Linked DNA regions of Homo sapiens: all the other regions are linked to region 2. Evidence: fine-mapped expression QTL. A gene starts in region 2. Each other region holds a variant in brackets. All regions are shown on one strand. Distances are between the middles of the regions. Region 1 has its middle 44 kb from the start of MSMB. Region 2 holds the start of NCOA4 (nuclear receptor coactivator 4). Region 3 has its middle 25 kb from the start of OR13A1. Region 4 has its middle 35 kb from the start of MSMB. Region 5 has its middle 28 kb from the start of AGAP4.

The links. PIP is the estimated chance that this variant, and not a neighbour inherited with it, causes the effect.
Region 1: its variant is fine-mapped to the expression of NCOA4 in whole blood (INTERVAL, PIP above 0.99).
Region 3: its variant is fine-mapped to the expression of NCOA4 in whole blood (INTERVAL, PIP above 0.99).
Region 4: its variant is fine-mapped to the expression of NCOA4 in whole blood (TOPMed, PIP above 0.99).
Region 5: its variant is fine-mapped to the expression of NCOA4 in whole blood (INTERVAL, PIP above 0.99).

The regions. Positions count from the first base shown.
Region 1 is chr10:46,087,976-46,093,081 of GRCh38, forward strand. No RefSeq gene overlaps it. Among named protein-coding and RNA genes, the nearest start is that of MSMB, 44 kb to the left of the region's middle. RefSeq lists a silencer at 3,564-3,858. The variant T/C (reference allele first, on the strand shown) is at 2,444.
Region 2 is chr10:46,027,799-46,032,904 of GRCh38, forward strand. It overlaps NCOA4 (nuclear receptor coactivator 4), which reads right to left and starts at 2,825. Exons shown (of 10, transcript NM_001145263.2): 1 at 2,728-2,825. It overlaps LOC105378287 (a long non-coding RNA gene), which reads left to right and starts at 2,977. Exons shown (of 3, transcript XR_945923.4): 1 at 2,977-3,069; 2 at 4,791-4,986. RefSeq lists a silencer at 2,351-2,440 and an enhancer at 2,801-2,870.
Region 3 is chr10:45,288,165-45,293,270 of GRCh38, forward strand. No RefSeq gene overlaps it. Among named protein-coding and RNA genes, the nearest start is that of OR13A1, 25 kb to the right of the region's middle. The variant T/TAC (reference allele first, on the strand shown) is at 2,014.
Region 4 is chr10:46,078,458-46,083,563 of GRCh38, forward strand. No RefSeq gene overlaps it. Among named protein-coding and RNA genes, the nearest start is that of MSMB, 35 kb to the left of the region's middle. The variant A/G (reference allele first, on the strand shown) is at 2,541.
Region 5 is chr10:45,817,410-45,822,507 of GRCh38, forward strand. No RefSeq gene overlaps it. Among named protein-coding and RNA genes, the nearest start is that of AGAP4, 28 kb to the right of the region's middle. The variant A/G (reference allele first, on the strand shown) is at 3,122.

The DNA.
Region 1 (5,106 bases), 60 kb after region 2:
TCTTAATTTCCTTTTTAGATTGGTCATCATGAGTGTATAGAAACTCAACTGATTTTTGTGTGTTGATTTTGCATCCTATAACTGCTTAATTCAATTATTAGCTCTGACAGGTATTTTGTATAATTTAGGGTTTTCTACATGTAAGATCATGTCACCTGCAAACAGAGATAATTTACTTCTTCCTTTATAGTCTGAATGCCTTTTATTTATTTTTCTTGCCTAATTAGTCTGGTTAAAACTTCTAATACTATATTGAATAGAAATGGTGAAAGTGGGCACCCTTGTCTTGTTCCTGATCTTAGGGGAGAAGCTTCCCATTTTTCTCCATTGAGAATAAAATTCTCTGTGGATTTTTCCTACATGGTCTTTATTATACTGAGGACACGTACACTTCTTGAGTGCTTTCCATGTGCCAAGCATTTCTAAATGCTCTGTATATATTATTTCCTTAATTGCACATAACTCTGAAATAGGCTCTATTATACCTCTTTTTTTCAGATGAGAAAACTATTGCACAGAGAGGTATGTTCTCCCTATAAATGAGATGATGTCTGTGTGTGGATTTTATTTTTACATATGGCATGTTGGTTTTATTAAAATAATGATTTATTTAGTTAATTAAACTTTAATTTTAAACAAACCAACTTTGTAGCATTATCACCCCATGTTGTGAATTTAGATCACACAATCACTTATTAGATGATAGACTGCTGCAGTACAATGCTAAAGGTCATGATTACTACATATCCTACTTAGAACACAACTGTTTGGATTTTTCTTTTATTTTTTGAGACAGAGTGTCTCTGTGTCACCCAGGCTGGCGTGCAGTGGCATGCAACCTCAATTTCCTGGGCTCAAGTGATCTAAGATTCTTAACAAACACCTTTCCGCTTAAAAATCTAATATATAGGCTGGGCACTGTGGCTCATGCCTGTATTCCCAGCACTTTGGGAGGCTGAGGCAGGTGGATCACTTGAGGTCGAGTTTGAGACCAGCGTGGTCAACATGGTGAAACCCCGTCTCTACTAAAAATATAACAATTAGCCAAATGTGGTGGCAGATGCCTGTAATCCCAGCTACTCAGAAGGTTGAGGCAAGAGAATCGCTTGAACCCTGAAAGAGCAAGATACTGTCTCAAAAAAACCCAAACAGTTTTTGTTGTTGGTTTTTTTTTTTTTTTTTGAGACAGAGTCTTGCTCTGTCGCCCAGGCTGGAGTGCAGTGGTGCAATGTTGGCTCACTGCAACCTCCACGCCTCCCGGGTTCAAATGATTCTCCTGCCTCAGCCTCCTGAGTAGCTGGGACTACAGGCACGCACCACTGTGCCCAGCTAATTTTTATATTTTTAGTAGAGACAGGTTTTCATCATGTTGGCCAGGATGGTCTCAATCTCTTGACCTCGTGATCCGCCTGCCTCCGCCTCCCAAAGTGCTGTGATTACAGGCGTGAGCCACTGCAGCTGGCCTATATATATTTTTTTAATCTGACATATTAATGTAATTTTTAATATTTGTAAAAATCATTAAAAACCTTTCCAGAGGCCGGGCGTGGTGGCTCACACCTGTAATCCCAGCACTTTGGGAGGCCAAGGAAGGCCAATCACGAGGTCAGGAGATCAAGACCATCCTGGCTAACACGATGAAACCCCATCTCTACTAAAAAATACAAAAATTAGCCGGGCGTGGTGGTGGGCGCCTGTAGTCCCAGCTACTCGGGAGGCTGAGGGAGGAGAATGGCATGAACCCGGGAGGCGGAGCTTGCGGTGAGCAGAGATCGCGCCACTGCACTCCAGCCTGGGCAACAAAGCGAGACTCCATCTCAAAAAAAAAAAAAAAAAAACCTTTCCAGGTAAGAACAGCTACTACCACTTTGTTACATGCAATAACTCAGTTAAACAGCTTAAGAACTCACTGTAGTTTAGTGGTTAAGACCCAGCACTCCAGAGCTAGACGATCTGGATTCAAGTCCTGCCTCTATTATATATATGTGTGATTAAGCCACTGCACTCCAGCCCGGGCAACATAGCGAGACACTGTCTCACGAAAAAATATTTTAAAAAAGAATGATGAAAATGTAATATGTCATTTGGGAACATGTCTTAATAATGTAATAACATATATGTAGAATAAGTTCATTTTTATAAAGCAAGCATATAATTCCATAAGAGTACAAAAGAATGGCCAGGCTTGGTGGCTCATGCTTGTAATCCCAGCATTTTAGGAGGCTGAAGTGGACAGATCACCAGAGGTTAGGAGTTCGAGACCAGCTTTGTCAACTTAGTGAAACCTCGTCTCTACTGAAAATACAAAAAAATTAGCTGGGTGGGCATGGTGGCAGGCACCTATAATTTCAGCTACCTGGGAGGCTGAGGTGGGAGAATTGCTTGAACCTGGGAGGCAGAGGATGCAGTGAGCCGAGATCATGCCACTGGACTTTAGACAGGG[T/C]GACAGAATGAGACTCTGTTTCAAAAAAAAAAAGCGGTAGCAGGAAAGGCCAGCTTGGTATCCTGTGCTGAGCAACCAGACCTGGCCCCACTCAGGGCAAGCATCGGGTGCTCTCCCACCACTAAGGCCAACAGCAGCTGCTTCCAAGTCTGATGCTATCAGGCAACACTCTCAACATCTTCCTCGCTCAGGTGTCCAAAGGGCCCTGGCCAGCCGGACACTGGGCTCAGTGTGCCCGGGAGGGAGCAACTGGGCCTGTGGCCTGCACCCCTTGGTCAGCCCAACTCGGCCACCCTGAGCAGGACTGAGGGCTGCCCCAAAGCTTCATAATCGGGGTGGTTGCAAATTACATTCTAGGCTGTGTTAGGACTACGTATTGCAAACATTTTTTTTTCCCTTTTTTGCAAGGTGGATGGATGAAAAGAGAGAGAGAGAGAGAGATAAAGGAGCATGGGCAAACATTCACTGTAAAATCCCAGTGGTGGATATAGGTGTGTTTGTGTTCATTGCACAATCCTTTCCACTCACCTATAGGTTTGAAAATTTCAACAATAAAGGATGGAAGAAAACCAAATAACTAAAGAAGAAAATTATGCTTAGACATAGACAATCAGAAGTCATGATACATCCTGGGTGACAAGTGACTGATGAGAGGGACAGACCAAGCCCTTGGGCTGCAGGGAGTCAGAGGGGCTGGTCATCAGGGAAGGCTTCCAGGATGAGGTGCCCTATGAACAGGGCTGTGAAGGACAGGTGGGCTCGGCCCTTCAAGGTGAGGCAGGGCTTGCAGGGTGCCTACGCCCCACCTGGTCCCACCTCTGCACAGGGCGCCCAGAACAGGAAGTGGCTCCTGGAGGGCCTGGGGGTTCTGCTAAGAGCCTCAGACACCTGCCAGGCTTAGAAGGGAGGCTCCTGCCAAAACCCTCCAGCCATGTGTGGGGGATGGGCTCAGGACTGGCCTGGAGCAGTGAGCCCAGCAGAGGCCTCTGCCAGGCTGCATATGAGGCCTAGGACTGAATGGGGGAGTCTGGGCTGCGTGCCTCCCTCCCTGGCCTCCTTCCTGGGCTCCCTGGAGCCCTCCTGGTTTCTTGGTGGCAGCCTGCTGAGAGGGCTTATTCTGTTGCATTTAGGTTCCAGGTTCCTGCCTTGGCCTTTCCCTGCTGTGACTGTCACCCTCCATGTGGGGCAGCTTTGCCCAAGTCAGCCAACAGCTGACAGGTCAGGGCTGTGACTGCCGGGCCACGTGAGCAGAGGCAGAGGGCTGAGCTGGTGGGCAGAGGGCACCTGTCACCTCAACTCAGCTGCCACCAGGGAAGAGTGACGACTCACATCCTCACCTGGGGTTGACAGGACTGCTCAGACGCCACAGCCTGTGCATGTCCAGGGGACATCGTCAGAGGAGCACAGCTAGCACACTGGCTGCACGACTGAGCAGCTTTAAACCAGGAGCAGCAGAAAGAGACCCCAAGTGGGAGGGGAGCTCTCTCTACTCCACCCCCATCCTCAGCTCTGCATCGGGGAGAGGTGAGTGGGGTCAGAGCCCAGGACCAATCATGGAAGTGTCAGCACAGCTCCTGTTTCTGGGACCTACCAGCTCCCAGCCCTGTGCCAGTCCCTGCACAGCTCAGTGCCCTGGGACTCACGACAGGCCTGACAGCATCCTTTCTGTTCATGGGAGGCACCTCTGGAGCTCGCTGACATTGGACAATTTGCTCCTGGTCGTGTGCCCATGGAGAGCAGAGCTGACATGGACGGTGTGTCTGTCCTCACAGCCTACTGCCAGGGCACCCTGCAGTGAGGAACTGGGAGGCCAGAACCCAGCTGCTGCTCTGGGCCAGCAGCACCCAGTCTCGTGCTGTCCCCATGGAGGGAGGACACCCAGGGCTCTCTTCCTCTCCAGCAGCCGCATTTGCATAAATGCCGGCCATGCGGAGTCCCAGTGCGCACAGGTGGAGATCAGGACAGACAGGGGTCATCACAGAGGACCACACAAGGCTGTCACCACCCATGCTGGGTACCCAGATGGCATGAGGTCACCCTTAATTCCAGACAGTAGGGACAGATGCTGGGATTGATCTTGTGGGACTGAGGTGAGCCGAGGGTGTTTGTGTGGACACCTTTGTCGGGCTATGGAGGTTTCCTTCTGCTCCCAGGGTGCTGTGGCATGTTGACGCCCCCACTTCTTGTTCTTCATCCTCTGAGATAACCGCTTGGTTCCTGTTTCCCGTTTTGTTGATGTGGTAAATTTCACAGCTATTTCACCTTCTGCACCTGCCTGGCCTTCCTGGGAGGAGCCCTGGCTGCTCCTGCCCTGTGGTCTGGGTTAGCTGCTGCTCCATGCCATTTGCTAGTGTTTTCCTGTGAGCTTCTCACACATGTCTTTTCTTGCTTTAGGGTTAAACTTATTGTTGTGAGGTAACAACACACTAATTGTACACAAGTACTCACACTGCCACCTCTGCATACTCCCCCCACACCAATAGACACTCACATTCACACTCATGTGGGCCACACATCCACACCCACCCACCCATGCACACTGGACCACAAACACACTCAACCCACCCTATACCACACACATCACACCACACACCACACACCCGAAGCACACACACCCACACACCACACACATACATAAATAGCAAACACACATACACCAAAAA
Region 2 (5,106 bases):
CACTGTATATCCTAAAGAGTGACAAATCTTCATTTTCTGAGGCTAGGTATACTTTCTTGGAAAGATCTGATGACTAATATATGTAAAGCACTTAAAATAGTGCCTGATGCACATTAAGAGCTATAGAAGTATTACCTATTTTTATTACTTTTAGTCAAAGAACAGGATATAACAAAGAAAGACATAAAGTTCATCAATTTCATTACCATCATCTCTCTCCAGGACTCTTGCAGAAACCTCATGACTGCTACCTACTCTTCCCCTCTACCCTTACTCTTCTCCTCCTGCTGCTCCTTTAGCTTAACAAGGATGCTTCTGCCTCAGGGCCCTTGCGCTTTCCTCCAGGTATCCTCGAGCCCAGGCCTTCACTTCCTTCAGGTGTCTGCTCAGAGGTCATCTTCTCATTGAGGCCATTCCTCACCATCTTTTATTTTTAAAAGTCTTGCCTCCAATCCCCCTTAATATGCTTTATTACTCTCCATAGTACTAACCACAGTCTGGCACGTAGCAACCATTTATTTTCTGATCTCCCTTCAGAAAACATACTAGAAGGTAAGTTCCACATGGCGGGGACTTTGTCTTTTTGTTCACTGTTGTATAGTAGGTGTTCAACAATTAATTACTGAGTAAATGAATTCAGTAAGTATTTACATCTAGTCTACTATGTGCCGAGCCTTTTTTTAAAAAACTCACTATCTCAATTAGCCCTCATTAAAGTGGCTATTATCATCACCATTAATTAAAAAAAAAAAAAAAGCAGACTTGACAAGGTTAAATATATTACCTACAGTCACAAACTCCCAAGTAGAAGAGCCAAGATTTAATCCCAGATCTGAGTCCAAAGTCCCTAACCACACCTGGTATGTTGAAGGAATCATTAAGTATTAAGGTATTATGTATTCATCCAACAACTATTTATTGAGTACCTAAACTGACACTACTGTGATAGTCCCTGAGAACACAATGGTGAGCTTGCCACCTAGAGGAGAACTCGTGTCATAGATTCACCAACCAAGCAGAAAATACTAATTCTTTGAAATAAGAGACTGAGTTCAAAGTCCATCAGCAGCAGCAATGACTGGCTCTGAATGCTAACACTATGTGAGGGAAAGTATTATAAAACACTAACTTAGGGACTCTCAACCGGGGGAGGGATATGTGTCAGGATATCCTATGGAGTTTTATGAAACCCCTACACCGGATCCTGAGATTCTGGCACAGCTATACTGATTTAATAAAAAAAAAAAAAAGGGGGGGGTGAGGGGTACTATGTAGTTCTAAAATATCTTCTCTCCCTTTGAGAAGGACATCTTCCTCCCCTTCCATAGCTCAACATGTTTTTCCATTTCCGAAATGCCTGTTTGCACAAAGGTAATAATGTAATTGTAGAGATTTATTTAGATAAAAACTACCACAAAACTTTCAAAGAGTAGGATTTTCCTTAGAGACCCAAGGACAAAGGCTCCCTGGAAGGCAGGAAAGGAGAAAATGAAAGGAACGTTATTGTGCTGGACTTTACATACATAATCTCATTTACTTATCTGAACAAATCTGCAAGCTAGCAAATCTTCAAATGAGAAAACCAAGTAAATTGCCTAAGCCACTGCATCCTTAGGGTAAGTCTTTCTCAAACGGTCTCAAGTACTTTAAAGTTTGGAAATGTCACACTAGGATCTCGGTATAAAAATGGGCCAACTATGACTTCCTGTGCCATCCTCATTCCAATAAGTAACTCAAGAGTCTCTATAAACTTAGTTCCAAATTACCAAGTGCGTGGTGGAAAGCTAAGTCCATCCAAAAGGCAATTACTGTGGTGAACCCGACCCTGATTAGAAAGTGACACAAAAAGGCACAGTTAAAAGTAAAAAAGCTCTGCCTTTGGGGTCAGATAAATTCAGCACTCTGACTTCTGTCATTCTACTTCTGCCATTCTTGATGGCATCATTCCATGTTAAATCCCGTGCCACGTAAGATTATGATTATTGTTTTCCCCACAACAAGAATTTAGTTCCATGAGAATTAGGTGTCCATTTTTTTCATTGCTATCCTCAACATCCTGAACATACAGGCACCAAATAAATGATTGCTGGTGGAATGAACCAATGAATGAGCAAGCCTTACTCTTCTCAGCTGTAAAACAGAGATAATCAAGCTACTTTTCGGGATTATTGGGAGAATTAAATGTGACAGTATGTGTTTGGCACACAGAGGGCCAAAAAAACCCAATATCTTCTTTGCATTTCCACCTGACAAGCTAGAAATGGATTATGTTCTGTGCCCGTCCGGCAAAACAGACCTCGCCTCGCCCCACATCCAAGCAAGAGGCGAGAGAAACAGGAAACTTGGAGCTGTCACACCTAAAGAGAGGGGAAGGCCGGCGGGGAGCAGGAGGTGTCCGAGCCGGGTGTGAGGAGGGTCGGGGAGGAAAGGACAGGCCCACGGCCGGGCACGAGGAGGGTCGGGGAGGAAAAGACAAGCCCGGGCCCGGCGTGTGGCGGGAAGGCGAGAACGTAGGCCCGGGCCCGGCGTGTGGCCGGAAGGGGAGAAGACAGGCCCGGGCCCGGCGGGCAGGCAGGAAGAGGTGCCCGGGCCTGGCGTGTGGAGGGGAGGGAAGGGAAGGAGAAGGCAGACCGGTCCCGGTGTCGGTCGGGTCGGGAAGGGGCGGACAAGCCCGGGCCCAGCGGGCCAGCGGTCATCGAGCCTCCACCCGGCCCACAGCGTTCTTACCAGGTCCGAGTGCCTCTCCAGGCGATCCGAGGAGACCTTGGGTGGACTGAGACACGGCCCCACACTAACCTACGGCCCAAAGGCAGAGTTCTCGCGACAACACAATCTTCCTCCCACACCTCTCGCCATACGTCTGACAGTCTCGCGAGATCTCCGCTCGGGTCAGCCAGAAGCCCTTGACTGCCCTCTAGGAGGCGCAGAGCGCAGGCGCACACTCCCTCCCCGCCCTTGCAGTGTCCTTTAGTCCTTCGTGAATAAATCGAAATTAAATGAAGCAAATGCTTTTTTGAAGGCAAATTTGGTGCCAAGGACCATCCTAAGTGATTCAGATGGCCTCACAAGGTAGATATTATTTAGTTTGAACATTCAGATGCAAAAATGAATATCGTAAGACACAAAAGGCCATATGTTGTATGATTCCACCTTTGCCACATTTGTTTTTCTAAGGATTGAGTTAATAGGCCGGGAGCAGTGGCTCACGCCTGTAATCCCAGCACGTTGGGGGCCGAGGCGGGCGAATCACGAGGTCGGAAGATGGAGAGCATCCTGGCTAACACGGTGAAACTCCTTCTCTACTAAAAATACAAAAAAATTAGCCAGGCGTGGTGGCTCGCGCGTATAGCCTCAGCTATTCGGGAGGCTGAGGCAGAACTGCCTGAACCTGGGAGGCAGAGGTTGCAGTGAGCCGAGATCGCTCCACTGCACTCCAGCCCGGGCGACAGAGCAAGACTCCGTCTCAAAAAAAAAAAAAAAAAAAATTGAGTAAATAAATAAATGGCAGAACCCAGATTCTTTTTTTCTTTTCTTTTTTCTTTGAGACAGGGTCTGACTCTGTCGCTCAGGCGCAGTGGCGCAATCTCGGCTTGCTGTAACCTCTGCCTCCTGTGTTCAAGCGATTCTCCTGCCTCAACCTGCTGAGTAGCTGGGATTACAGACATGCGCCATGATGCCCGGTTTTTAAATTTTTTTGTAGAGACAGGGTCTTGCTGTGTTACCCAGACTGGTCTCAAAGTCCTGGGCACAAGCGATCCTCCCACCTGATCTAGGATTACAAGCATGAGCCACCACGTCCAGCCTACAGCCCAGATTATAACCCACATTATTTACTTGTGACTAGATGTTAAATAGCACTTCTTTCTGTCTCAGTTTTGACAGAGGTCCTCCATACTCAGTTGCCAACTGCTTCCCCACATTCCGCAGCAAAGGAGGTGATCATAGCAGGGTTTTATGGATCTCATCCAAGAGTGACTCTGCTACAAGGGGCAAGGCAACCTCATTAGAAAACAATAGGAGACATAGATTACGATGCAGAAGCTAAGATAACAGTCATAGGCTGTGAGTGGAAGGGGAGCTGTGGAGAGAGAAGCCCACAAAAGTCCCATGAGGAAGTCAGCCTAGAACATGACCTCAGGCAGAAGGAGCCCTTAACTCTCCTGTCCCCCATTCCCTCTCAATTCAGATGCAGCCCCTGGAATGAGACTTTGTGTAACTCAAAATGTAACTCAGACCACTTTTTTAAATTATCTGAAGGTGAACAAGAAAGCTAAGGGACCTGTCTAGATTGCTCAACTGGCCCACATAGCATGTTTAAACAGATAGGGGACAGGGGAAAATAAAGCTCTTTATCAGTTGCCCACTGATTGTTCAACAGATGACTGTTTGCTCATTTCTGATCTGTCACGTACACACAGCTGAGTCCAAGCCCCAGGAGAACAGGGTTCTCTCCTGAAATCTCTCTGGTTCACTGCTGTATCCCCAGGTCTAGAGCACTGCCTGGCCCAGGTGCTCAGTACAGACCTGTTGAGTGAACAGATGTTCTTTAACACAGAAACAGTTAAAAGAGAATCAATGTTGTCGTTGTCTTAAGCCACTAAGTTTTCGGTGGTCTGTGTGTAGCAAGAGGTAGCTGATGCTGGGGCCTTGCACCCAGGCCACTCTCCATCTGCAAGGCAGAGCCCCTGGCCTTTAATTCCCCTCGGGCTGCATGTGGTCTTGGGGGCACTTTCTTCAGGCTTGTTCTAAGCTGTTTTACAGGCTTGTTCTAAGCTGTTTCTTGTTCTAAGCTGCTTTGACCTCAAGCAAACACAGAGGAATGTGGGGGACACATCATAGAAGACACTTCCTGATGAAGAGGAAGGAGGGATAAACAGGAACACCGTAAAGAAAAGAAGGGATCTAATTCCAGCTTGAAGACACACATTTTTTTCATCGTTCACCAGACAGCAGGACACGGGCAGCAGAGTGCAGACATCAGAAACAGTAAGAGTGGCAGTGGTCCCCTGAGTAAGGGATGCACAATGACCTATTATAGAGTTTAGGAAAAATAGAACTTTTATTCATATGTATTTTGTTTTGTTTTGTTTTGTTTGGGTTTGGGTT
Region 3 (5,106 bases), 740 kb before region 2:
GGAAATAGCAGCCCAACCCTCAGTTTGGTCCAGGAACACTCCTGCCTTAGCGTCCCGAGTAGCTGGGATTAAAGGCATGTGCCCAGCTCACTGCTACACTCCCACTAGTGCCATGACAGTTTACAATGTAGGGATGTAAACTGTCATGGCACTAGTGGGAGTGTAGCAGTGAGGACAACCAGAGGTCACTATCATCGCCATCTTGGTTTTGGTGGGATTTAGCCAGCTTCTTTACTGCAAGTTTTATTAGCAAGCTCATTATGAGCTGTATCTTTGTGCTAGCCTCCTATCTTATCCTGTGTCTTAGAATGCCTAATTATCTGGGAATGCAGCCTATAGGTTTTAGCCTTATTTTACCCAGCTGCTACTCAAGATGGAGTTGCTCTGGTTCAAATGCTTCTAACAAACTCAAGCATTTTTTTATGCTGAATTCAATTCTTAAAGCAGAGCTTAACTCTTTCAACCAACTGCCTGTCAGAGAATCTTTGAATCCACTTATGACCATGAATCTCCACCCTCTTTGCTTCAAGATGTCTCACCTTTCTGGGCCAAACCAACATATACCTTATGTATATTGATTTATGTCTTTGCCTGTAACTTCTCTCTCCCTAAAATGTATAAAACCAAGCTGTAACCCAACTACTTTAGGCACATGTTTTTAGGACTTCCTGAGGCTGTGCATGGGTCAAGGTCTTTAATCTTGGCCAAATAAACCTCTAAATTGATTGAGTCCTATCTCAGATACTTTTTGGTTTACAAGGGTTATTGTGGCAGATTAGACTATTGCTCCCAATTCTTTGCTCCTTCCCTGTAACAATTACACAGCCATGATACAAGTACAGGTTTAAATAGGTTTGCTTGGTTTGGTTTGTCTCTCCCACTACATCCATCAGCCATGAAAAGAACATGCCACAGGTAGCCACAGATCCCAGCATGAAAAGACACATGGAACATACGTGAAGCCAACCTTCAATGAGAGCCTCACCAATCCAATCCCAGTGGAACCTAGTGGAGCCCAGCCAATCCACCAACTTGTGAATGAGAAAAAGATATGTTTGTCTTTGCAAACTGCTGAGTACAGCTTGAGGATAAGCTTTACTCACCTCCAAGTACAGGGGGTAAGCACACAGCATTATCACAAAAAAAAATTACTGAAAACCATGATAATTGTGGGGCTTTAACTCCACTAAATGCAAAAGAGGATACAAGCATTTGGATTTAACTTAGCAATTTTTTCCTCTGTTTGTGGGTAAAGGTTTAACAAAACCCTGCCTTTCTGCAAGAGGTACTGACCTTCTATTTACTTTCTAGCTTGATTCCTCTGGAAATCTGATAACTATGGAAAGCCTTGTGTTACTAGGTAGCAATGCTTAGGTAAAAGAGACCCCTGAGTGGCTGATTGCTTGTGGATGTGACACCAGATAAGTCATAATTTGAGACTTCTCTTCCACTAGAAGCCACCTACATTAGTTTCCTAGAACTGTCATTAAAAATTATAACACTGGTGACTTAAAACAATAGAAATTTATTCTGCCATAGTTCTGGATATTAGAAGTGTAAAATCCAGGCGTGAGCAGGGCCATGCTCTCTCTGAAGGCTCTAGGGAACTGTCCTCTCTTGCCTCTTCTGGCTAGTGGTGGTTTCTGGCAATCCTTGTTGTTTCATGGCTTATGAAGGCATCGCTCCAATCTCTTCCTCTGTCTTCACATGGATTTCTGCTTTGTGTGTCTCTATGTCTGGCCAGTTTGTGGTGCATATGTTTGAATTGCATCAGTGGGAAATTGAGTTGAGTGGGAACTTAAGTCACTTAGATAAACCAAAATCTATTTACATATCGGTAAAAATCAACTCAAATGGTATGCTTTTCTCATGAGAGGCCGCATGTTCAAATGTAAGAAAAAGATGCAATTACAAATTGGCCTGATTTTATTTCACTTCTTGGGTTGTGTTAGGATATAATGTATCCTCATGGGAAAAAGAAATTACAGACTTAATTTGCATAGTAGACTGATT[T/TAC]ACACACACACACACACACACACACACACACGAAGGGAGAGAGATGTCATCAGTTCTGAGAGTATTATTTGTTCATCTACATTTGAGAGGTCCAAGAGTCTCCACCATGTAAAAGCCCCAAGAGATCATCAGTAAGAGACTGGGCTCTATTGACATCAAGAGAAATTAATATGATTAATTAATGAGGCCCCTTTTGTTGCTGAGAAATTGTAGGTATAAGCATTTTTAATTGTTTTTAGGGATATGAGGTTTTTCAATTGAGTAAGTGAAGAAAATAGGTAGAATATATCCCTCCCAATACCCATTGGATAAAACTGTTGGTGATGGTCGTTTTTCCACCATTTTAGTCCAGATTGACCGCTCTTGATTTCTTTCAACTGGGTGTATGAGCCACACTCACTCTTGCCAGACACTCTTGCCAGGAGCCTATAATACTCTCTCCCTCCCCACTTCAACACTAAGTTATCCTGTCTGTCTTCCACTTATCCTTAGGAGCACAGCCTAAATGACACTTGTCACAGGAGGCCTACTTTAACCCCCACAAGCAGGGGCATTTCCCTTGTTATGGGGATTTTATTGTTGTTGTTTACTAAATTGTCTTCAAAACTAAGAGCTCAGGCAATGTTTACCAATCTTGCTCACTGCTGTATCCTCAGAAAGTATTACAGGGCTTGATGAGGGCAGAATAAGGATTTATTATAAGAGGAAGGAAATAATGAAAGTCTACAATGACATAGTTAGAACTGAGATTATTATGTGATTGATCTTCACCAAACAACCCAACCAGCAGGAAAAGAATATTTTCAGGAGTAAATCTAGGCTTTATGACATATATTGATCCAATTAGTAGCCTCTTGCTCTCACTTGGTTTATGCATACTGTATTGTAATCTTGAGTTCTCTAAAAGGTAAAGTTAACCTTGAGCAATATGAAAACTATAGTTCTCATCCTTTGACCACATGACTGACCAAGGCAACTGTCATGGTGACTGGACCCCAAGGTCCAGCCAAGGGCGCTGCTCTGCACACCCACCATAGCAACTCCATGATATACAGGAAGGGTTGGAAATGAGTGAATGTCATAGGGAGGATGTCTGGATGGGAGTATGAAGGAGAATGTAAAGCAATGGTTAGGCTTCCAGACACCAAAATAATCACATTTATGTCTAAAGGAGAGATAAAATCTGCACCCCCTGCATCCCCAGTGGTAGTGTTACAGGAAAGGGGTTCCAATCCAGACCCCAAGAAAGGGTTCTTGGATCTTGCACAAGAAAGAATTCAGGGCAAGTCCACAGAGTAAAGTGAAAGCAAGTTTATTAGGAAAGTAAAGGAATAAGAGAAAGGCTACTCCATAGACAGAGCAGCCCTGAGGGCTGCTGGTTGTCCATTTTTATGGTTATTTCTTGTTTATATGCTAAACAATGGGTAGATTATTCATGCCTCCCATTTTTAGACCATATAGGGTAACTTCCTGATGTTTCCATCACATTTGTAAACTGTCATGGTGCTGCTGGGAGTATAGCAGTGAGGAAGACCAGAGGCCATTCTCATCACCATTTTGGTTTCCATGGGTTTCAGCTGGCTCCTTTACTACTACCTGTTTTATCAGCAAGGTCTTTATGACCTATATTTTATGCTGACCTCCTTTCTCAACCTGTGACTTAGAATGCCTTAACCATCTGGGAATGCAGCCCAGTAGGTTTCAGCCTCATTTTTCCCAGCTCCTATTTAAGATGGAGTTGCTCTGGTTCACATGCCTCTGACAGTAGGTGCCTCAGGAAAGCAAGGACATTCATCTTGGGATGAGAGAATAGGGTTACAAACACCATTCTGAAACCAAGAATCAGGTCAGGAGAGAAAGCAATCTAGAGCATTCAAAGAGATTCCTCTCTAGCCCAGCCCCATGATGAGAAGCATGTTGACTTCTTTGAAGAGGTTCCAGGAAATCTGGAAGAGGAAGTCTAAAAGAACTTTTAACTTTTATAGGAGATACCATCCAAGGGCATGAGAAGTGTTAACAAACTCAGGATGAGCTCTCCTCACTCCTGGGACTGAATGAGCTCAGCCCTTTATGGGCACAGATTCAGCCCATTGTTGTGTTCAAAGCAGAAATAGCTGGAGCAGGACCTGGATCTGTCAGAGCCTGAAGAACTCACACCAGAGACCACAGGGAGCAGCACAGGAGCATGGAGCCTACAGGCCCCAGAAGGGAGGCCTGCATCAGTTGGCATCTGGGTGAGAAAACAGAAACCACACTACCAATTTAACAGAGAGGACCTAATATAGGGAACTGGCCAGAGACATTTGGGAGGACTGCAGAGCACAAGAGAAACTGCCGTGCTGCAAAAACAGCAACCACAGAAAGCAGCTTTATATCCTGGGACTGGAGGAGCAAAGAGAGTTTGAGGCCATGGTCAGTGAGAAAGCCAGTGAAGGGACTGCACTGAGCTGGACCAGAGACCCTGAGGAGAGTGGCTTTCCTGGGTGGCCTTGGTCTTCCTGTGGCATAAAGAGATCCCACAGGGCTTCAGCCTGAGGATGCATGCTACTCAGTGCATGCTGCTTCCTCAGCAGCTCGGAGGAGAGCCACCCTCGACAGGGATTGAAACCCCAGAGTAGGCAACACTGGTGACTATGTGCCAGCATCTCTGAGGGGCCAAATGAGGCTGCTCCTGCAAGTGTAAAAGCTGAGAGCAGCTGCTGTCCTTGGACCAAATCACTGCTGCAAAGCTAAGGAATCATCCTCAGGATGATGCTGACAGAAGCTGGAAGCAAATGGGACAGAGCAGGTCCCTGCTCTCTCCCAGCCTTCCAGGATCCCTCTAGGGCCCACTCTGGGCAGAGACTAACAGAAATCCAGCTGCAAAGGAAAAATAAGGTTTGCAGCATCCCAGGCTCAGAGTTGCAGAGATGGGTTTGGAACTGAAAGACAATAGGTTAAGAGTGAGCACAGTTGCTGCCCAAGGAACTCAGGACCCTCAGGTCTGGACCGGCTCAGGCAGCTACCTGAGCACAGAGGGAAGCAGGAGGATGTGGTTTGTTCTCTGACATGCAGACCCACATAACGGTCCTGGTGGGCAGCCAAAGTAGCATC
Region 4 (5,106 bases), 51 kb after region 2:
GGAAACTCACTCCTTTTTTGTGCTGTGAGTTCAGACTGAACAGGATCAGCAAGCATAACTGTATCTGTGTTCCATGCCTTATCCTCCAGCAAATACCAGGAACATTCTGGAGTTGAAGCTGTTTCCACTAATAGCCAGAGAACAGTCCAGTTCTAACAGAGGTGCCAGGGATGCTCTCTCCTGGAGAGCACTGAATTTCCTGGAGACAAAGTCTTCTGGGAGTATTTCTAGGAAGAATAACTTTTTTTTTTTTTTTTTTGAGACAGAGTCTCACTCTGTCGTCCAGGCTGGAGTGCAGTGGCGCGATCTCGGCTCACTGCAACCTCCACCTCCCGGGTTCAAGCGATTCTCATCCCTCAGCCTTCCAAGTAGCTGGGACTACAGGCGCGTGCCACCATGCCTGGCTAATTTTTTTTTTTTTTTTTTTTTGTATTTTTAGTACAGACAGGGTTTCACCGTGTTAGCCAGGATGGTCTCAATCTCCTGATCTTGTGATCCGCCCGCCTCGGCTTCCCAAAGTGCTAGGATTACAGGCGTGAGCCACTGCACCCCGCCGGAAGCATAACTTTTCAACGTTTGTGCAGATAACACCCTGAGGGGCCTGGCCCATGACTACAGAGGAAGATCATCTATGATTGAAATAATTAAAAGACCGGAGTTCCCTGCTAACTTTGAATATGATTTGGCCAAGTGCCGGGTCCTAGAGAAAACAAGAGCCCATCAGCAGGCAGGTCTTTATGGGGAAAAGGTGCCCCTCCTTGTGCTCTCTATAAAGACAGGGAGCCTTAGCTGGTGGACTTGTCAAGGGATGAGTTCTCCAAAAGCAACCAGTGAGATGGAGTTTGAGGCGCATGATACTTATTAGAGATCCACACCTAGGAAGGGAAGGAGGAAAAACTGATGGGGCAGAGGAAAAAACTGAACTGTGTTGTGGGCCCAGCACAGCCTCAGTCTACCTGGAGGGCACCCTGGAGCAACGGTGTTCATCAAGAGTGTCCACTTCAGGCCGGGCACGGTGGCTCAGGCCTGTAATCTCAGCACTTTGGGAGGCCAAGGCGGGCAGATCACGAGGTCAGGAGATCGAGACCATCCCGGCTGACACGGTGAAACACCATCTCTACTAAAAATACAAAAAATTAGCCAGGTGTGGTGGCGGGCGCCTGTAGTCCCAGCTGCTCTGGAGGCTGAGGCGGGAGAATGGCGTGAACCCGGGAGGCGGAGCTTGCAGTGAGCCAAGATCGCGCCACTGCACTCCAGCCTGGGGGGCAGAGCGAGACTCTGTCTCAAAAAAAAAGAGTGTCCTGTTCAGACTGGAATATTGGGGCCTGTGTATCCTGCTTCACCCAGTCACTGGATGAGGCTGCCCCAAGACGGCAGCAACCTTGGGTGACCCAAGATCACCCCACAGACCAAGGACCCCCAAAGAGCCAAAAGCTAGAGGCCACCCATTGACTGCAAGCCCTGCAGCTAGGCTTCACATCCTCCTTGGTGGGGAAGATGGAGGAAGGGGTGAGTCGGGCAACTCCATGTCTTCCACAGTCTTCTACCTAGGTTCTTCCAAGCTCCCCATAGCATCATCCTCTTAGGCAACATCTTTTACTAAATATTGCATTAGATACTAATGGCATCGGTCCCATATCCCTTCAGCCCTCCCTGTTTTATCTGCAGCTGTGGTTGACAGTTTTTGTGCAAGCTAACAGCTTCTCCTTTTTGCCACTGGGGTCAGTTAACTTTCAGTTACAGACAAACCTGTTTAAAACACAAACAGGCATATACCTCTTAGAAGAGAACAAAAATGTTGCCTTTTCAGATCTCAGACTTTAAGAAATTTTGGAACCAGGAATTGACAAACAGTGCTTGGAATTCAAGGAATGAACTGACCCTAGGCACTTCTAAAATAAATTCCAGCTCAGTAGAAACAATAATTTGAACTTGCATTTCCCATGAGCAAACTTTCATGATCCTGTAGCTATAACACGACTGGATGGTGAGAATGTAACCACTGCTGGTATCATCCCAACTTGTCAGCCCACAGTGTTAGCCTTTGGGCTTCCTGGGATATCTGAGTGGCAAGTTACCCATGAAATACATTAGGCAAACAGGATTCGATGAAAGGAGGAGGAAATTATTCCTACACATTGGATGTTTATATTTTAGATCTAAATTGCAGCAGGTACATATTGGTTCTTTCCTTAATCATTGGCTTATGTTGAAGTTCACATTAATAATGGAATGTTTCCTTTATAAAGAAAGACAACCCTGCTGATTTCCTGCTGTAGGACAGGCTATCCTGGAACTGGTGTAGGCTGGGCAGTTGTCTACACCCAACCCTGATCCTCTTAGTGCCATCCTTCAGATGTTAGGCCAGCACCTTCAACTACAAATTAGGCAAAGCTAAGAGACATATATGATTAATTTCATATATTAATTTTATATATTCCTATATTAATTTCCCAAAAATATTTTAAACAAAGGTTATACAATGAAGCTAATCAAATAGAAGTGGCAAATCAAGATAAGGAAAGAAAACCCAAGAATTC[A/G]TGGGAGCAAAAGGGCTGTTGTAACTGCATCAGAATGTGGGCATGAGGTTCCTAGTTTCCAGAGCAGTAAAAACAAAACAAACAGCAACAGCAACAAAAACAAACCCACATAAAACCACCAAGTTACGCAGTTCTCATCAGAAAGAGGAAAGCATTCCAGATTCTTAGCAGAGATGCATTTTCCCTCCCAAATTTCTAAAATTTAAACATAACAAATTTGTTTTTTATTTTTTTATTTTAAGTTCTGAGATACATGTGCAGAACGTGCAGGTTCATTACAGAGGTATACGTGTGCCATGGTGGCTTGGTGCATCTATCAACCTGTCACCTAAGTTTTAAGCCTCGCATGCGTTAGCCATTTTCCCTGATGCTCTCCCTCTCCTCGCCCCTGCTTCGACAGGCCCCTGTGTGTGTCGTTCCTCTCCTTGTGTCCATGTGTTCTCATTGTTCAGCTCTCACTTATGAATGAGAATATGCAGTGTTTGGTTTTCTGTTCCTGTGTTAGTTTGCTGGGGATGATGGCTTCCAGCTATATCCATGTCCCTGCAAAGGACATGATCTCATTTATTTTTGTGGCTGCATAATATTCCATGGTGTATATGTACCACATTTTCTTTATCCAGTCTATCATTGATGGCATTTGGGTTGGTTCCATGTCTTTGCTATTGTGAATAGTGCTGCAATAAACATGCATGTGCATGAACCTTTATAATAGAATGATTTATATTCCTTTGGGTATATACCCAGTAATGGGATTGCTGGGTGAAAGGTATTTCTGGTTCCAGATCCTTGAGGAATCGCCACACTGTCTTTCACAATGGTTGAACTAATTTACATTCCCACCAACAATGTAAAAGCATTCCTATTTCTCCACAGCCTTGCCAGTATCTGTTGTTTCTTTTTTAATAATTGCCATTCTGACTGGCATGAGATGGTATCTCACTGTGGTTTTGATTTGCATTTCCCTAATGATCAGGAATGTTGAGCTTTTCTTCATGTGCTTATTGGCTGCAAAAATGTCTTCTCTGGAGAAGTGTCTGTTCATATCCTTTGCCCACTTTTTGATAGGTTTATTTTTCTTGTAAATTTGTTTAAGTTCCTTGTAAGTTCTGGATATTAGACTTCTGTCAGATGGGTAGATTGCAAAAATTTTCTCCCATTCTGTAGGTTGCCTGTTCTCTCTGATAATAATTTCTTTTGCTGTGCAGAAACTCTTCAGTTTAATTAGATCCCATTTGTCAATTTTGGCTTTTGTTGCAATTGCCTTTGGCAATTTTATCATAAAATCTTTGCCTATGCCTGTCTTGAATGGTATTGCCTAGGTTTTCTTCTAGGGTTTTTATGTTTTTGGGTTTTACATTTAAGTCTTTAATCCATCTTGAGTTAATTTTTGTATAAGGTATAAGGAAGGGGTCCAGTTTCAGTTTTCTGCATATGGCTAGCCAGTTTTCCCAGCACCATTTATTAAGTAGGGAATTCTTTCCCATTGCTCATTTTTGTCAGGTTTGTTGAAGATCAGATGGTTGTAGATGTATGGTGTTATTTCCAAGGTCTCTATTCTGTTCCATCGGTCTATATGTCCGTTTTGGTACCAGTACCATGCTGTTTTGGTTAGTGTAGGCTTGTAATATAGTTTGAAGTCAGATAGTGTGATGCCTCCAGCTTTGTTCTTTTTGCATAGGATTGTCTTGGCAATGTGGGCTCTTTTTTGGTTCCATATGAATTTTAAAGTAGTTTTTTCTAATTCTGTGAAGAATGTCGATGGTAGTTTGATGGGAATAGCATTGAATCTATTAATTACTTTGGGCAGTATGGCCATTTTCACAATACTGATTCTTCCTATCCATGAGGATGGAAGGTTTTTCCATTTGTTTGTGTCCTCTTTTATTTCCTTGAGCATTGGTTTGTAGTTCTCCTTGAAGAGGTCCTTCACGTCCCTTGTTAGCTATATTTCTAGACATTTCATTCTCTTTGTAGCAATTGTGAATGGGAGTTCATTCATGATTTGGCTGTCTGCTTGTTTATTGTTGGTATATAGGAATGCTTATGATTTTTGCACATTGATTTTGTATCCTGAGACTTTGCTGAAGTTGCTTATCAGCTTAAGGAGTTTTTGGGCTGAGACGATGGGGTTTTCTAAATATAGGATCATGTCATCTGCAAACAGAGACAATTTGACTTCCTCTCTTCCTATTTGAATACCCTTTATTTCTTTCTCTTGCCTGATTGCCTTGGCCGGAACTTCCAATACTATGGAAGTGGTTTTTAAATTTTTAAATGCCTAATTAAAAAATAAAATCTGGCCAGGTGCAGTGGCTTACTCCTATAATCCAGCACTTTGGGATGCCAAGGCTGGTGGATCACCTGAGATCAGGAGTTCGAGACCAGCTTGGCCAAGATGGTGAGACCCTGTCTACACTAAAAAAAAAAATACAAAAATTAGATGGGCATGGTGGTGGGCACCTATAATCCCAGCTATTTGGGAGACTGAGGCACAAGAATCGCTTGAAACTGGGAGGCAGAGGATACAGTGAGCCGAGATCACGCCATTGCACTCCAGCCTGGG
Region 5 (5,098 bases), 210 kb before region 2:
TCAGAGCAAGCCCAATGCCCTCCCAGTCCAGGGAGAGGGCTCAGAGCAGGCTCATGTCCCCTGAGTCCAGGGTGAGGGCTCAGTGCTGACCCATTTATCCTCACAATGGACCTATACGTCCCTGGACATCCAAGGTGGGGCTCCGGGATGCCACCCCCAGCCAGGACAGACTGGCTCATTAGAAGGAACTTCCCCCACAGCTGCCTTCATTTGGAGATGCCGGGACACTGGCTGATGGGAGACAAGCTCAGTGAGCCCCATGAGGGCATGGGCCCCTGAAGCCCCTTGGCCCTGCCCAGCCTGGAATGTCAATGATCAGACTGTCTTGCCAGCTGAGACCTGGAGACCAGGCTAGGCCTCTGTGCCAGATTACATCCCTCTCAGGATGTGCTGGCGCCTGCCTCAGGTTAATTTCCAAAGCCTCATCCAGTAAAACCATGTCTCTCAAAGCAATTCCTCCAACAAGAGGGAATTCTCTGCCTACTTCAGAGTTTTTTAAAGTGTGGGTGGTAGTGTGCTAGAACTGAAAGATTTTGGAGTCAGAAGAAATGGTTCTTATTCTAACTCTCCCTTCCACCTCTTGGTTCCCTCATCTTTAGAATGGGAATCTGTTGGGATGATCAGAGCCAACACCAGGTCGTGGGGGCAACAAAGTCCCGCGGAGTCAAAAGAATGAGAAAAAGTTCAAGAGAGAAAGTGGGACCAGGGGGCCATTGCCAGTGTGGAGGCTGCAAAGGCACTGAGCTCTGGGAGCCCATGCTATTTATTGGTGATCTAACAAAGAAACAGGTGGTGAGGATGTGGAGGTTGAAAGGAAACAGTGTAGCAAGTGAATGAGAAATATATGGCTACTTGAGATAATGGGAATGCTGGAATCAAGAAGCCAGCAAGTCTAGCAGACATGCAAGCCCTGCCTCAGCTTCTCTACCAACACTCAGCTTTTCTCCCAACAGGAATCATAGAAAACTCAGAGGCTAGTGAAAGGTTAAAGCAGGTGGTTATCACCAGCTGCAGAGTCAAAAACAAAATACACATCTGCTGCCATGTAGAAAGAGGACACAAACTCAGGCAAGGCTGTTTTTCACATGATGACCCATGAGTGGGGCCTGGCTGGGCCTCCCCACACACAGCTGCTGACCTCTGCATACAAAACATGCTTCGGCCCAGAAGCACGCCAGCATTCACCCACCTGTGGGTATCAGTCAGGCTCCTGGTGGAAGCCAGAGGACATATTCGAATGGGTACTTGAGGAAAAGGGGCTGTTCACAGAAGTGTGGACAGAGTTAAGGGAACCAATGAGAGATGAGAAATGCCCTGGACCAGCAAGAGTGGGAGCTGTTATCTCCCTGGGTCTAGAGGGACAGGAAAGGTGTCCACAGACCCCGAAGAGAGCTGTGGCTGTAGGGGAGGATCATCAGGAGCTGCAGCCATCACTAGAAAGATGTGGCCACTGGCAAACCAGCAAGGAAGAATCTGAGTGAATAACCACCTCTCCTCTCTCTCCCACCTCCTATGACATCCCCCACTGTCTGAATTCCACTAGGGCCAGACAGTGAGGAACCTTGGTGATGCAGTCCAAGAGGGAGTGGGCAGAGAGGAGCCAGTGGGTATGGAGGGGAAACAGAGAAACAGAGAATTCCAGCTCACTCTGCGGGATTTCTGGGTCTGATAGAAACATAGCAGCAGCTTAATTATTATTATTTTGAGATGGAGTTTCACTCTTTTTACCCAGGCTGAAGTGCAGTAGCGTGATCTTGGCTCACTGCAACCTCTGCCTCCTGGGTTGAAGAGATCCTCCTGCCTCAGCTTCCCGAGTAGCTGGGATTACAGGGACATGCCACCACACATTGCTAATTTTTTTATTTTGGGTAGAGATCAGGTTTCAACATGTTGGCCAGACTGGTCTCGAACTCCTGACCTCAGGTAATCCGCCCGCCTGGGCCTCCTAAAGGGCTGGGATTACAGGCATGAGCCACTGTGTCCAGCCTGCAGCAGCTCAATTTTACAGTGTCCCTTTTCTCCTTCTGGAAACTATATAGAGCAACAACAAGACTGAGGAGGAGGAGGAGGAGAAGGAGGAAGAAAAAGCCCATCATCAACATACACATCAAACTCAACTTCAGAGAAATTAGGAAGCTGGGAAGCCACGTAAACCCAAAAGCAGGTGACACCAGCAGAACCAACACAGGAAGCCAGGGAAGTGCAGAAGAACAGGGCATGGGGGGCCACCCAGGGGGAATCTTCACTGTTGCCAGCAACACACACTCCCAGCAAGAGAGGACCCTCAGAGTGAGAACGCAGAGCTGGAGAAGTGAAGAAAAAAGGAACAGGTGGTGTGCGGGGAAGTCCAGGGGTGCGGGATCTGACAGCGTCCCTTCCCAAGAGAGGCAGGAACACTTGGGAAGGCAGGGCTGAGTCCCTGGAGGCTGTATCCGGGAAAGGAAGCTGGCAGTAGAACCTTCCTGAAGCCGAGTTGGTTCTGAGAGGCAGAGGGGCAGTGGTACAGGTGAGGCCGACGCTTCTGTGCAGGAAGGGCAGGCTCCTGAGGAAGGGAGCCCCGAATGCTCTCCACTAGATTCCCAGGGAGTCCCACTCCCTCCACAGGGACCTTGCGCTGACATCTGGGAAATGCCATTCATACTGGAACCTCCGACACACTGCCATGAATGTGAGGGTTTCGTGACTGATGGGGTAGGTTTCTCTTTTCCAATTCAATAGTATAATTTCCATTTATTCCTCCCCCAGCCTCCCTGAACATTCACATCTTAGATAGCCACAGTACGGTGATCAGAACCAGGAAATCCACATTCTCATATTTAACTATATTAAAATTATTTCACAAAATAACCAATTTTGTTAATTTAAATACATTTAAATGACGTTTAAATGTATTTAAATTATTTAACTATTTAAAAATGAACATATTAGCTAAACTAAAGACCTTATTGGAGTTTTGCCACTTTTTCCACTAATGTCCTTTTTCTGTTCCCAAATTCCACCCAGGATCACGCTGCATTTAGTTATTTCTCAGTCTCTCGCCGTTTTGTAGGACTGCAATAACAGTTCCTCAATCTTTCCTTATCTTTCATAACCCTGACATCTTGAACCAGTACTGATCACT[A/G]TTTGTCAAATGTTCCTCGATTTGGGTGTGTCTGATGTATTTCCATGATTGGACTGAAGTTACACACTTTTGGCAATTACAGCACAAAAATGATGTGGAATCCTTCCCAGTGCATTCCTTCAGAGTTATGGCATTGATAGTTCTTCTTACTGATGATGTTGAACTTGTTCATTTGGTTCAGGTTTCTGCTGGATTTCTCCATTGTAAAGTTACTATCTTTCCCCCTCATAGGGGGAAAGATCTTAGGAGAAATACTTGGAGACTATGAAAGTTTTGTATTTTCTCAAACTTTAAAATTTTTTTTCAGGCCAGGCGCAGTGGCTCACGCATGTAATCCTAGCACTTTGGGAAGCCGAGGCAGATGGCTCACCTGAGGTCAGGAGTTCAAAACCACCCTGATCAACATGGAGAAACCCCATACCTACTAAAAATACAAAATTAGCCAGGCATGGTGGTGCATGCCTGTAATCCCAGCTACTCAGGAGGCTGAGGAAAGAGAATCGCTTGAACCCGGGAGGAGAGGCTGCAGTGAGCTGAGATCGTGCCATTGCACTCCAGCCTGGATAACAAGAGCAAAAGTCCATCACACACACACACACACACACACACACACACCCACAAAAAAAAAAAAAAAAAAAAAAAGGCCAGGCACAATGGCTCACACCTGTAATCCCAGCACTTTGGGAGGCCAAGGTGGGTGGATCACCTGAGGTCAGGAGTTGGAGACCAGCCTGACCAACATGGAGAAACCCCATCTATACTAAAATAAAATACAAAATTAGCTGGGCATGGTGGTGCATGCCTGTAATCCCAGCTACTCGGGAGGCTGAGGCAGTAGAATTGCTTGAACACGGGAGGTGGAGGTTGCCGTGAGCCGAGATCCCGCCATTGCACTCCAGCTTGGCCAACAAAAGCAAAACTCCATCTCAAAAACAAACAAACAAACAAAAAACACCTATTTTGACAGCCGGGCATGGTGGCTCACACCTGTAATCCCAGCACTTTGGGAGGCCAAGGCAGGCGGATCACCTGAAGTCAGGAGTTCAAGACCAGCCTGGCGAACATGGTGAAACCCCGTCTCTACTAAACATAGAAAAATTAGTTTGGCATGGTGGCATGTGCCTGTAAGTTCCAGCTACTTGGGAGGCTGAGGCAGGAGAATCGCTTGAACCCAGAAGGCAGAGGTTGCAGTGAGCCGAGACGGTGCCATTGCACTCCAGCCTGGGCAGCAGAGTGAGGGATCTCAAAAAATTATAATAAAAAAATAATAATTCTATTTTGAATAGTGGTAAAATACACATAAAATTTACTACCTTAACCACTTCTAAGTGGCAGTTGGAACAGGGGTCAAGGAGAGCCCTTGGGTTGGGTAATGTATATTCACATTGCCATGCAACCAATCTCCGGAACTTTCTCATCTGACAAAACCAAAACTCTATATCCACTAAGCAACTTCCCATTTTCTCCCTTCCCCATGTCCCTGGCAACCCCCGTTCTACCTTCTGTTTCTATTAGTTTGCTTACTCAGTCTGGACGCTTCACATAAGTGAAGGAACACCGTATTTGTCTTTTTCTAACTGGCTTATTTCACTTAGCATAATGTCCTCAATGTTCATCCATGTTGTAGCATGTGTTAGAATTTCCTTCCTTTTTAAGGCTGAAGAATATTTTATTGTATGTATATACCACATTTTATCAATTCATCTGCCTATGGACAATTCGGCTGCATCCATCTTTTGACGAGTGTGAATACCACTGCTATAAATATCAGTGTACACATATTTCTATGAGACCTTGCTTTCAATTATTTTGGCTATATACCCAGAAGTGATATTGCCGGATCATTTGGTAATTCTATTTTTAATTTTTTGAGAAACTGCCTGTCCTGTGCTGAGCAGGTCTATATAAACCTATCTGCAAAGGCCAAGGAACCTGAGATACCAAAGAAAGAGGCTGACAAATCCAGTTTCTCAGAAA